Homo sapiens: one gene and its partners. The protein of the gene in region 1 purifies or fractionates together with the protein of each later gene. This does not show direct contact. Each region holds a gene or a part of one and is shown on either strand. Other genes may lie near its edges.

What was found.
Region 2: the proteins of ENDOV (region 1) and TSC22D3 purify together in Homo sapiens (affinity purification with mass spectrometry; 2 studies listed by BioGRID and IntAct, with this or other methods). This does not show direct contact.
Region 3: the proteins of ENDOV (region 1) and APAF1 purify together in Homo sapiens (affinity purification with mass spectrometry; 3 studies listed by BioGRID and IntAct, with this or other methods). This does not show direct contact.

Annotation. Positions count from the first base shown.
Region 1 is NC_000017.11:80,432,041-80,435,790, forward strand, and holds part of ENDOV (endonuclease V), read left to right. Parts: intron 1-3,750.
Region 2 is NC_000023.11:107,769,122-107,772,871, reverse strand, and holds part of TSC22D3 (TSC22 domain family protein 3), read left to right. Parts: intron 1-3,750. UniProt on the Homo sapiens protein: Protects T-cells from IL2 deprivation-induced apoptosis through the inhibition of FOXO3A transcriptional activity that leads to the down-regulation of the pro-apoptotic factor BCL2L11.
Region 3 is NC_000012.12:98,676,169-98,679,918, forward strand, and holds part of APAF1 (apoptotic protease-activating factor 1), read left to right. Parts: intron 1-1,256; coding exon 1,257-1,383; intron 1,384-3,750. UniProt on the Homo sapiens protein: Oligomeric Apaf-1 mediates the cytochrome c-dependent autocatalytic activation of pro-caspase-9 (Apaf-3), leading to the activation of caspase-3 and apoptosis. This activation requires ATP. Isoform 6 is less effective in inducing apoptosis.

The DNA of each region.
Region 1 (3,750 bases):
GGGTGCAGACCGGTCTAGATGTGCCTGTCTGGTGGGCGCTGAAGGTCCCCTTGGGAGAGTCCAGGGCAGCACCTGATAAGCCGAGAGCTGCAGCCGTGTCCACCTGGAACCTGTTTCCTCACCGGGAACATGAACACCTGCTTCAGAAGCTTTGGGGGTTAAAGGTGGGGATACACATAGGTCTCTTGCCCAGCGGTGGACACTCGGTACACTCCTAATAAATGGGGCATGGGGTGGTGGAGTCCAGCACCTGGCTGGGCCCAGGAATGAGGCATCAGTGGTCGGAGGGAAGGGCGTCTGCCCACCTAGCATCTTTGGCAAGGATCTGCCTCCCAGCACCCCTGTGGAGTCCTGTCTGGATGGGAGGGAGAGCAGGGCCGTGGACAGCCTCCAGAGGTGTTCCCCTGAAACCTCTGAATGTCACCAGCACAAGCAGGCTGGGCTGGGCTCTCCCGGCAGTAACACCAACCGAGCACAGCCGTTGTCCTGGGGCATGCCGTCCAGGTTGGGGGACAGGGAGGCAGAGGTCCCGTGTCATTGCCCGTGAGTCCGGGGCTTAGGCACCGCTCTGGGGACCCCTCATGCTGGCCCCCAGGCCCACTGAGGCATAGGTGAGACCATTGCATGGTCCTTGGAAGAACAGGGCTCCTCAGGCAGGGAGTGGACAGAGCCAATGCTGGCGATGGGGGACCTTGCCTCAAGCAGAGTCGTGGGAGATGGAGTCATGGGGGCGTGTGGGGGTCTAGGCAGGGGAGCTGCTGACTGCAGGTGGCCCAGCAGTACCCAGGTTTCTGCTCGCTCCCATTCCACCTCCCCGAGGGCACTCGTGGGAAAGGGAAACATGGCACCCAGCTGGTGCCTCATTCCACCTACCTCCTGAGTCAAAGGGCTCCACCACCCCAGACACACCCAGAGCCTGGTGTCCAGGATGCCATGTGTGTGCCCCAAGCCAGTAGGACCCTTGGGAGGCTCAGCACCCCCTGCCCCAAACAAATGCCTCTCCCCTCTCCACACTCACTGGCATTCCCACAGAATGCCCTCCTGACTTCTAGAGCTTTCCCTGTCCAGAGCTCCGGGAGCACAGGTGGCAGGGAATTAGAGGCATTAGAAGCACAGTGTGGAAGCTGGGCAGAGCTGGCTGAGATCCCACTGTCTCTTCCAGGCTGGCCTTGAGCAAAGCTCAAAACGCATCCCACAGGGGTCAGTACCTGCCCATGTGGTGGGGGATATTCCACCAGGTGAAGTGTGTAAGGGCTCAGCAGGGAGCCTTGGCACATGGTGAGTCCTTGGTGAGGGAAGGCTGTTGGTTTGGAGAGGTGAGGCCCACAAGGCCGTCAGTCCGCCATGCTGTGCCAACCCCAGTGATGAGAGGATGAAGCCAGGTCAGGGAGGTCTCATCTACCAGGCTCCCACCTGAGCTGGCAGCTCCTCACGCCATCCCAAGCCATCAGAACTCAGGTCCTCGAAGGGAGGCCTGGCTGCCCCCTTCCTCTGGAGCCAGACAGGACCACACCTCCTGCGCCCTGGGGCTTCACTCCAACAGGGGAGCTTCCCAGGGGGCCGGGAGACTCAGAAGAAATGCCCACAACTGCCTGGCATGTGGTAGGCTTTGCACAAAGAGCAGTAGCTTCAACCCCAATGACCCACCTCTGTGAGGGGGGCAGAGATGGCTCTGGGCTCCTCTGGGGCTGGAGGTCAGGCTCTGCTTAAAACCGTTGGTTCCTCAAGGACCATGGGTGTCAGGTGGGCCTCCCCAGCTGAGGGCCTGGCCAGGACCTGGTCAGGGGGTCCTTCATTTTCCCCTCCCCTTGCAAGAAGGAGCAGGCCAGAGCCTGGAGATAAGTTTGCAGACAATTTTTACGTGAGTAGTTTATGTTTGTTTTGAGATAAAAGTCATCATTTCCACTACAACTCATTGACTTTTGGTATATTCACAATCATGTGCAACCATCATTACTGTTTAGTTCCAGAACGGTTTTTTACCCCAAAGGGAAACCCCATATCCATTAGTAGTCACTCCCCGTTCTCCCTTCCCCAGACCCTGGCACCCAGCAAGGGCTTCCTGTCTCTGGACAGGCCTGTTGTGGGCACCATGCCGACGTGGAATCACCGTGTGTCTCTGGACAGGCCTGCTGTGGGCGCCATGCAGGCGTGGAATCACCGTGTAGTCTTTTCTGTCTGGCTTCCTTCTCTTGGCATAATGTTTTCAAGATGCACCTGTGTCGTGCCAGGTGTCAGGACCTCATTCTTCTTTATGGCTGAGTCATATTCCATCATATGGATCAGTATAAACATTTTGTTAATCCTGGTGGATATTTGGGTTTTTTCCATTCAGGGCTTTTGTGAATAATGCTGCAATGAAGACTGATGTACACGCTTTTGTGTAAACATGTTTTCAGTTGCCTTGGGTATATATACCTAGGAGTAGAATTTCTGGGTCATGTGGTGACCCTGTGTTTAACTTTCTGAGAAACTGCCAGACTTTTCCATAGCAGCTACATCAGTTCACATCCCCACCAGCAATGCCCAAGGGTTCCAGGTTCTGCACACCCTCACCACCACTTGCTATTATCTGCCGCTTAGATTCTAGCCATTCCTTGGAGTAGAAACTGGTGTTTCGGCTGGGCACAGTGAGTGGTTCATGCCTGTAATCCCAGCACTTTGGAAGGCTGTGACAGGAGGATCACTTGAGCCCAGGAGTTTGAGACCAGCCTGGGCAACATAGTGAGACCTCATCTCTACAGAAAACTAAAAAATTAACCAGGCATGGTGATGCACTCCTATAATCACAGCTACTCGGGAGGTTGAGGTGGGAGGATCACTTAAGCCCAGGAGGTTGAGGTTGCAGTGAACCGTGATTGTGCCACTGCATTCCAGCCTGGGTGACAATGAGACCCTGCCTCAAAAAAAAAGTGGTATTTCATTGTGCATTTGATTTGCATTTCCTGATGGCTAATGGTGGTGAGCGCCTTCTCATGTCTAGTAACCATTTGTATATCCTCGTGAGCAAAGCATCTATTCAAATCCTTTGCCCATTTTAAAAATTGGGTTGTCATCTTGTTGAGTTGCAGAAGTTCTTTATATGTTCTGAATCCTAGATATTGATCACTTCTTTAGTTTACAAATATTTTTTCCTGTGGGTTGTCATTATTTTCTTGTTAGTGTCCTTTGATGCATGAAAGTTTTTAAATTTGATGAAGTCCATCTATTTTGTTGCTTATGCTTTTGATGTTAGATTTAAGAAGCCATTGACTAATTCAAGGCCATGAAAATTTACACCTACATTTCCTTCTAAGAAATGTATAGTTTTAGTGCTTCTTACCTTTAAGTCTTTGATCCATTTTGACTTAAATTTGTGTATGGTGTAAGGGAGCAGGTCCCATGTCATACCTGTGAGTAGCCAGTTGTCCCAGACCATTTTGCTTTGTTGTTGAGACAGGGTCTCGCTCTGTTGCCAAGACTGGAGTGCAGGGGTGTGATCATGGCTCACTGCAGCCTCGACCTCTTGGGCTCAAGCAATCCTCCTGGCTCAGCCTCCAGAGTAGCTGGGACTACAAGCATGTGCCACCATGCCTGGCTAATTTTTTTTTTTGAGACAGAGTCTCGCTGTGTCGCCCAGGCTGGTGTGCGGTGGCGTGATCTCGGCTCACTGCAAGCTCCGCCTCCCGGGTTCACGCCATTCTCCTGCCTCAGCCTCCTGAGTAGCTGGGACTACAGGCGCCCGCCACCACGCCCAGCTAATTTTTTTTT
Region 2 (3,750 bases), on another chromosome or scaffold:
TTATTTATTTATTTTTTTCCTGAGACAGGGTCTCACTCTGTCACCCAGGCTGGAGTGCAGTTGCATGATCACAGCTCACTGCAGCCTCAAACTCCTGGGCTCCATCGATCCTCCCACTTCAGCCTCCCAAGTAGCTGGGACTACAGGCACACACCACCATGCCCAGCTAATTTTTGTATTTTTTTTTTATAGGGACGGGATCTTGCCATGTTGTGCAGGCTGGTCTCAAACTCCTGGGCTTAAGCGACCTGCCCACCTCAGCCTCCCAAAGTGCCAGGATCACAGGCATGAGCCACTGATCCCCTCTTGTTTTCCTTGACAATTGGGACCTTAGAGACTGGGGATTCTGAATTCGGTTTAGGTTTTGCCCAGTATGACATGCTCATTAGCAAACTAGAAGACCATTATTGCTGGTCATGGGGCTTCTCCAATATCTGGGGTAGACAGCCTTCTCCTAAGTGAACATATCCCTTGTTACTTCATTAAATTCCCTGGGTTTCTATCATCATACTTCAGCCATCGTTTTTACTTCTATTCAATTTAATGATTTGACATTTCAGGTTCCTGTTGGGTGCTTTTTTCCTTTGTCAACTTTCAAGGCCTCTCCTGCTGGAGAAGCTAGTCTCCCACCCCTCCTCCTGCAGTCCATTCCTTTGCCAAGAGGGCTCCTATATTTTTAGGAAGAAGAGCAGGGCACATTCTTGATTTACATCTGGTTTGTCTGCTTTGACCTGTCCCTGGCTCCCAGCTTCGTTCTTGGTTTCCTTGGAACACAAGAGTATAAGCAATTTGAGGGTAGGGCTGTGTTTTACTTGCTTGGTTTTCCCTTGGCTTTTAGTTATACAGCCAATATTCAATAAAGGTTTCTTCAGTTGGATGACTACTTAAATATTGACGTGGTCCCTTGTAAAGATTTTACAACTTTATACTGTGCTAGAAAATCCTTATTAATGTTTAAAAGTTGTTTTCCTTCCGTTTTAACCACATGCAGTAACTCTCATAGCCTGATGGAAGTCCTGATAGTGCTGTGTATATACATACGAATCAGTGAGAATGGGCATGCAGCCTGTTGGTATGTAAATGGTACCTGTAAACAATTGGGTTGGGGAAGAAGTGTATTTTAAACACCATCCTTTCAATCTTGTATTATGTAACTAATAACCATAACAGATTAATAACTAACACTTCTTGAACATTCACAATGTACCTGCATAATCTAATTTAATATTTACATCAACTCTTTGGAATGGATTTATTTATTTATTTGTTTATTTATTTATTTATTTTGAGACGGAGTCTTGTTCTGTCGCCCAGGCTGGAGTGCAGTGGCACGATCTCAGCTCACTGCAGTCTCCACCTCCTGGGTTCAAGCAATTCCCCTGTCTCAGCCTCCTCAGTAGCTGGGACTACAGGCGCACGCCACCACACTCGGCTAATTTTTGTATTTTTCGTAGAGATGGGGTTTCACCATATTAGTCAGGCTGGTCTCGATCTCCTGATCTCAAATGATCCACCAGCCTCGGCCTCCCAAGGTGCTGGGATTACAGGCATGAGCCACTGCGCCCGACCAAATGGGTACTATTATCATCCATTTTCATTTTATAAAGAAGGAAATTGAGGCTTGGAAAAAATTAAGTATCTTGCCCAATGCCTCACAATGAAGAGCAGAGCCTGAATTGTCTATGAAGAAAGAATTGTTAAGAACACTCAGTAACTAAACTAATGCTAAAGAAATTCTTGTAACACTTAAGAATTGTCTATGAAGCAGAGGTAAATGTGAGCTCAGAACCTTTCCAAATGGTCAAAATGTCCTTATTAGGTAGGGAAACCAACCATCCCAGTCCTGTGACATAGGACTGCCTGTGCTCAAACTGGAACAGTCCTAGGGAAACTGGGATGGTTGGTCACCCTGTTGTTAGGGGACTTCCCCCTTGTCATTTGAATATGCTTCTAATACTGGAAAACTTAGGAGGGAGATAGAATATTCTGGGCAAACAGCAGAAGTTTCCAATTTAAATGTAGCATATGAAAAAGCTTCCCAAGTTGACATTTGAAGAGCCTTCCTTAATTTTTCTGACCTGTAAGGTATAACAACCTGTAACAGGAGCTTTGACAGTATTCGTTGTGATTGCTGTTGCTGTAACCTCAAATTTTTTTCTAAGATTTTACCCAAAACCTCTTAATCAGCTCTATTCTACCTTTGACCCCAGAGCGTACCTGGCTAGTGTGGTCTGAAATACTCTGAATCCGATTTCCCTTCCAGCTCTAAAAACCCTAGGATTCTACCTTTAAGCTTCTGACCTGGCCCCAACTGGTTCCCATATATAAATGCTCAGAAAATGATAAAAATAGCAAACATTTCTAATTGCTTTATGTGTGCTAATTCATTTAATATCCCCTATTAATATAGTAACAAAGGGGAAGGATATAGATTCAGAGATCAGGTTTTCAAGAAAAATTTGTGCAAAAAATTATTTGTGCTTCTCTAAGTGAGTCTCAGAACAAGTAATTTCATAATGTATATTCCTGGACCTGGCTTCTGAGGTGGTGGCCACTCACACGGCATGATTTGAGTGGCTGCCTGCTGCAGTGCCTAAGTTCATACTATTTAAGATTCAGTTCTCTGTCCATGTACCATCTAAAATTCCTCTCCCAGAGCACCGCTGGTATGTAGACCACACTGTGAGAAACCCTGTATTAGAGATTGCAACGCATTGTCAACTAATTTACCATTTGATTTTGAGGATGGAGTTACTCGCTGTAGAGCGGTTTTGGGTTTCTGTGTGGTTAAGCCTGTCATTCTTTGCCTTTGTGATTTTTGCTTTTGGTATCAAGCTTCAAAAGTCCTTTCATAGCCCAAAGTAATTTAAAATAACTATTTCCTGAGTGCCTAGTGGTCTGACAAAGAATAGGCATTCTTGGATTAAGGGACCTTCTCCATTAAAAGCACAAATGCATTTGCAAACTTAACATTCATGGTTTGGATACTTCATGAGAACTCAGACTGGTAAGAAACTGTGTTTTTGCTGAGGCACAGATGTGAATCACATGTGCAAGGAGACTAGTAGGTGGGGGCCGGTCCTTTCACCAATGAGTGAGCCTGGTGCCCTACCCCACATCTACTAGTGTGTGTGTGTGTGTGTGTGTGTGTGTGTGAAAGAGAAAGAGAGAGATGTATTATATGCATATATTGTACATAGTACATATATATATATAGTGGTAAAATAGATATAAAATTTGCCATTTTAACCATTTCTAAGTGTACGATTCAGTAGCATTAGGTATATTAACAATGTTGTGCAACCATTATCATTCCCAAAATTTTGTCATCATCCCAAACAAAAACTCTGTACCCATTAAAGAATAACTCACCGTTTCCCTATTTTCCCCTCCCACTACCCCCTGGTAACCTCTATTCTACTTTCTGTCTCTATGGATTTGCCTATTTAGATATTTCATATAAATTGAATCATACAATATTTTGTGTCTGATTTCTTTCACTCAACATGTTTTAAAGTTCATCCATGTTGTAGCACATATCAGTACTTCATTCTTTTTATGGCTGAATAAAATTCCATTGTATGGATATACCTCTTTTGCTTATCCATTCATCTGTCAGTGGACACTTAGGTTGTTGCCCTCTTTTGGCTATTATGAAGAATGCTGCTATGAACACTGGTGTACAAGTATCTGTTCAAGTCCCTGCTTTTAATTCTTTGGGGTATATACCTAGGAGTGGCATTGCCCAGC
Region 3 (3,750 bases), on another chromosome or scaffold:
AGTTTTTTCTGGTTTAAGTATACATTACATTCCTTTACACCTTATTATTTATTTATTTATTTAGAAACAGACCCTCAGTCACCCAGGCTGGAGTGCAGTGGTATGATCTTGGCTCACTGCAACCTCCACCTCCAGGGTTCAAGCGATTCTCATGCCTCAGCCTCCCGAGTAGCTAGGATTACAGGTGTGTGCCACCATGCCTGCTAATTTTTGTATTTTTAGTAGAGATGGGGTTTCACCATGTTGGCCAAGCTCATCTCGAACTCCTGACCTCAAGTGATCTGCCCGCCTCGTCCTCCCAAAGTCCTGGGATTACAGGTGTGAACCACCATGCCTGGCCCCTTTATACTTTAGATACTATGAGCAGTAATATAATATCTATACTGGTGGAATAGTTGATATTCATTAGATTGAGATACAAAGAATATGATGTTGCTTTATCTTTTTGGTATGTCTGAATAATTGTAGTTTGAGAGAAGCAGTTTTTTTTTTTTTTGAAATGGAGTCTTGCTCTGTCGCCCAGGCTGGAGTGCAGTGGCGCGATCTTGGCTCACTGCAACCTCCATCTCCCAGGTTCAAGCGATTCTCCTGCCTCAGCCTCCCAAGTAGCTGGGATTACAGGCACGTGCCACCACACCCAGCTAATTTTTATCTTTAGTAGAGACGGTGTTTCGCCATGTTGGCCAGGCTGGTCTTGAACTCCTGACCTCAGGTGATCCACCCACCTTGGCCTCCCAAAGTGCTAGGATTACAGGCATGAGCCACTGCGCCTGGCTGAGAAGAGCAGCTTTAAAGTACATCATAATAATGGTGGGTGTTTCCTTCAGTTAGGAAATGAGCATTTTGCTATGATTTTTATTTTAAAAAAGAGATGGAGAATTTTTGAAGGTATCCTTATATAATGATTTATCTGCACATGTATCATTATTAATGTATCAAAGGAAAATGGAAAGTGACATGTTGATTAACTAGATTTGATTAATTTGATTAATTAGATTTCTTCCAACTCAGTGACATTTGTAACACGTGACAGGTTGCTTGATAAAGGGTAACATTTCTCTTACAAATGCTACTTTTGTTATTTTTTTTCTTTTGGTGATCTGTGCTGTCATTTGCATGTTAGTAATCTGATTTTAAGAATTTTGTATTTTGGGGAACATAACCATGTTAAAAGACAGTTTATTTTAGTACTGAAAGAAAATAGTTACTTTTACTCTCATTTATTTAATTTCTGTTCATTTTTTCCCTGTATTTAGAAACAAAAAAAACATCACGAATCTTTCCCGCTTAGTTGTCCGCCCCCACACAGATGCTGTTTACCATGCCTGCTTTTCTGAGGATGGTCAGAGAATAGCTTCTTGTGGAGCTGATAAAACCTTACAGGTAAAACACATCTCTTGAGAAAAATGCAAAGAGGCATGTATCCAGTTTTGTGCAGATCAGAATATGTTTAAATCCTAAAATTCAAGAAAATTGCAACTTAGAAATAACAGAGGAATCCAGCTCTCTTGAACATTTTATTAAAGGTTTCTCTAGAGATTTAAAAGATACAGTTACATGTTTTCCTAATTCTAAACTTACAGGTGGTAAGGAAGTGCCCTTTACCCTGCCAGTCAGTTCCCAGCCATCCATTTGTCAGCTAAGGGTAGTGAGGAAATAATTGTTAGAAGACGTAGGGCTTCATAGCACAGGGAATAGGGCTGTGATTAAAAAACAGTGATTAGGAAAATACCTATTTTATCAAAGTCTTAGGCATAGGTTTTTTTCTTGTAAATAGGAACTGGACTAGACTATTTCCTAAGTTGTTTTAAAGAATTTCCTTTAAGATTCCCTTTGTTTTCAGAAAATATTAATGAGTACTTTTCTTTATGTTTGTGTTCTGCCTTTTGATTTTGCAGAGAACATGATGAAATTAGTTAAAACTTGTATTTAGGATACTTTTAGTCTTTGCAAGATTATGACTCCATAGCTTATGTCTATATGTGTACTTTATTACTAATTTTATTAATCTTGGCTTTTGAGTTCCAGAGAGAATGCATATTAAATGAAATGTTTTATTTGATTGTTAAGAATTTGCCAAAATAGTCTCAAGAGCTGAAGCTGTGCTCTGACACTTCTTTTTGATGGCAGCGGCGGGCTGCCTGGAGTGGCTGCTGCCATCATGCTGGCTGCAGCAGGGAGGCGCAGCTGGGGCTGCATGCTCTGTGGAGCTGGCGGTAGCTGGGGACAAGCAGGAACCCTACCCCTTCTGAATTGGGGCAGGAGCTCCTGGTTCCTGCTGTAGCCGCCCAAGCCACAGCTGTGGACCTGGGAACCCGCTCCATGGAGCAGGCCAGAGCCCTGCCCTCCTGGGTGTAGCTGTAGCCGCCCAAACCACAGCTGCAGGCTCGGGCCTCCGGCTCCACAGAGCAGGCAGGACCCCTTCCCCCTGGTGCAGCTGTAGCTGCCCAAGCGGTGGCTGCAGACTCAGGCATCCCTGTACTCTTGGGGGACCTGGAAGGACCCCCTGCCCTTGTAGGCTTGGAAGTGCCTGCTCCCGCTGCCTGACTTCTCCCTACTGTTGGCACCCACTCTGATCTTAGAGCAAAGCTGGGGCTGAGCCTGGGTGCTGTTGCAGCCCGGCCAGATGTGCACATGCTTGGGGCAGTGCTGACATGCCAGCCCCCTGCCGCCTCGGCCCCCTCCGGACTTTGGGTGCTGATGAGCATAGGAGGGAAGCCAAGGGGGTGCTGAGGGCAGTTTGATACTGGCCTGCAGGCTCCCCTTGGCACCTACAGCCTGGGTGCCATTCATGGCAGCAGGAGGCAGACAGGTTCCTGGGTGGAAGGGGGCGGGTCACCAATGAGGCCCCACCTTCAGGCCACAAAGGGCCTGAAGACTGGGGGCTGGGCTGCTGGTGTGGACTGAATGGACTGGAGTGGGAACTTATAGTGCCTTTTCCAGGCTTGCCCATGTCTGCCCATGGACCAGTTGGCATGTACTTCCTCCCTTCTGAAGCCCATAAAAGCCTCGGGCTTAGCCAGTGCTGAGCAGACACTGGGACAACCAGCTGCAGAGAGGAGCAACCCACTCTAGTGCCCCCTCTTTGCTGAGAGCTGTGCAGATGACAGGAGGACCAGCTGCAGAGAGGAGCTACCCTCTCTGCTGATAGCTGAACACTTGTCAGGAGGACTTGCCTAGCAGAGAGGAGCTACCCTCTCCTGAGCTGTGGAAAGGAGCTGCCCCCCGCAGGTTTATTGAGCTATTTTATCGCTCAATAAAGCTCCTGTTTGTCTTGCTCACCTTCCACCTGTCAGCGTACCACATTCTTCCTGGTTGTAGGACAAGAACTTGGGATCCCACTGAATGGTGAGGCTAAAAGAGCTGTAACACAAACAGGGCTGAGACATGCCCCTTGCTTGCCGCATTGCAAGTGAAGATAAGTAAAGAAAAGCTGCGGCCCTTCGGGGAGCCCAGACTTGGGAGCTCCCCAAGCTAGGGCTGTGACTCCCTCTTTGGGGCCCCGCGGTTCCTGGCATCTCCAAGCTTCTGGGCACCACCGTGTTCCCCGGTGCCAGCGTGTAAGCTGCTTGTGGTGTGCCTGGTCCAGCCACAGCCTCACAGAGAGCCAGAGCCCATGCTGGCACCTGGAGCTGCCTGCCCCGCTGCAGCAGTCAGCACGTCTGTGCGCAGTGGCTGGACCCCACGCTCACTCACACACGCCTCGCTGTTCCACGCCTGACTCGCCCTTGGCAGGCTTGGGACCCAGGC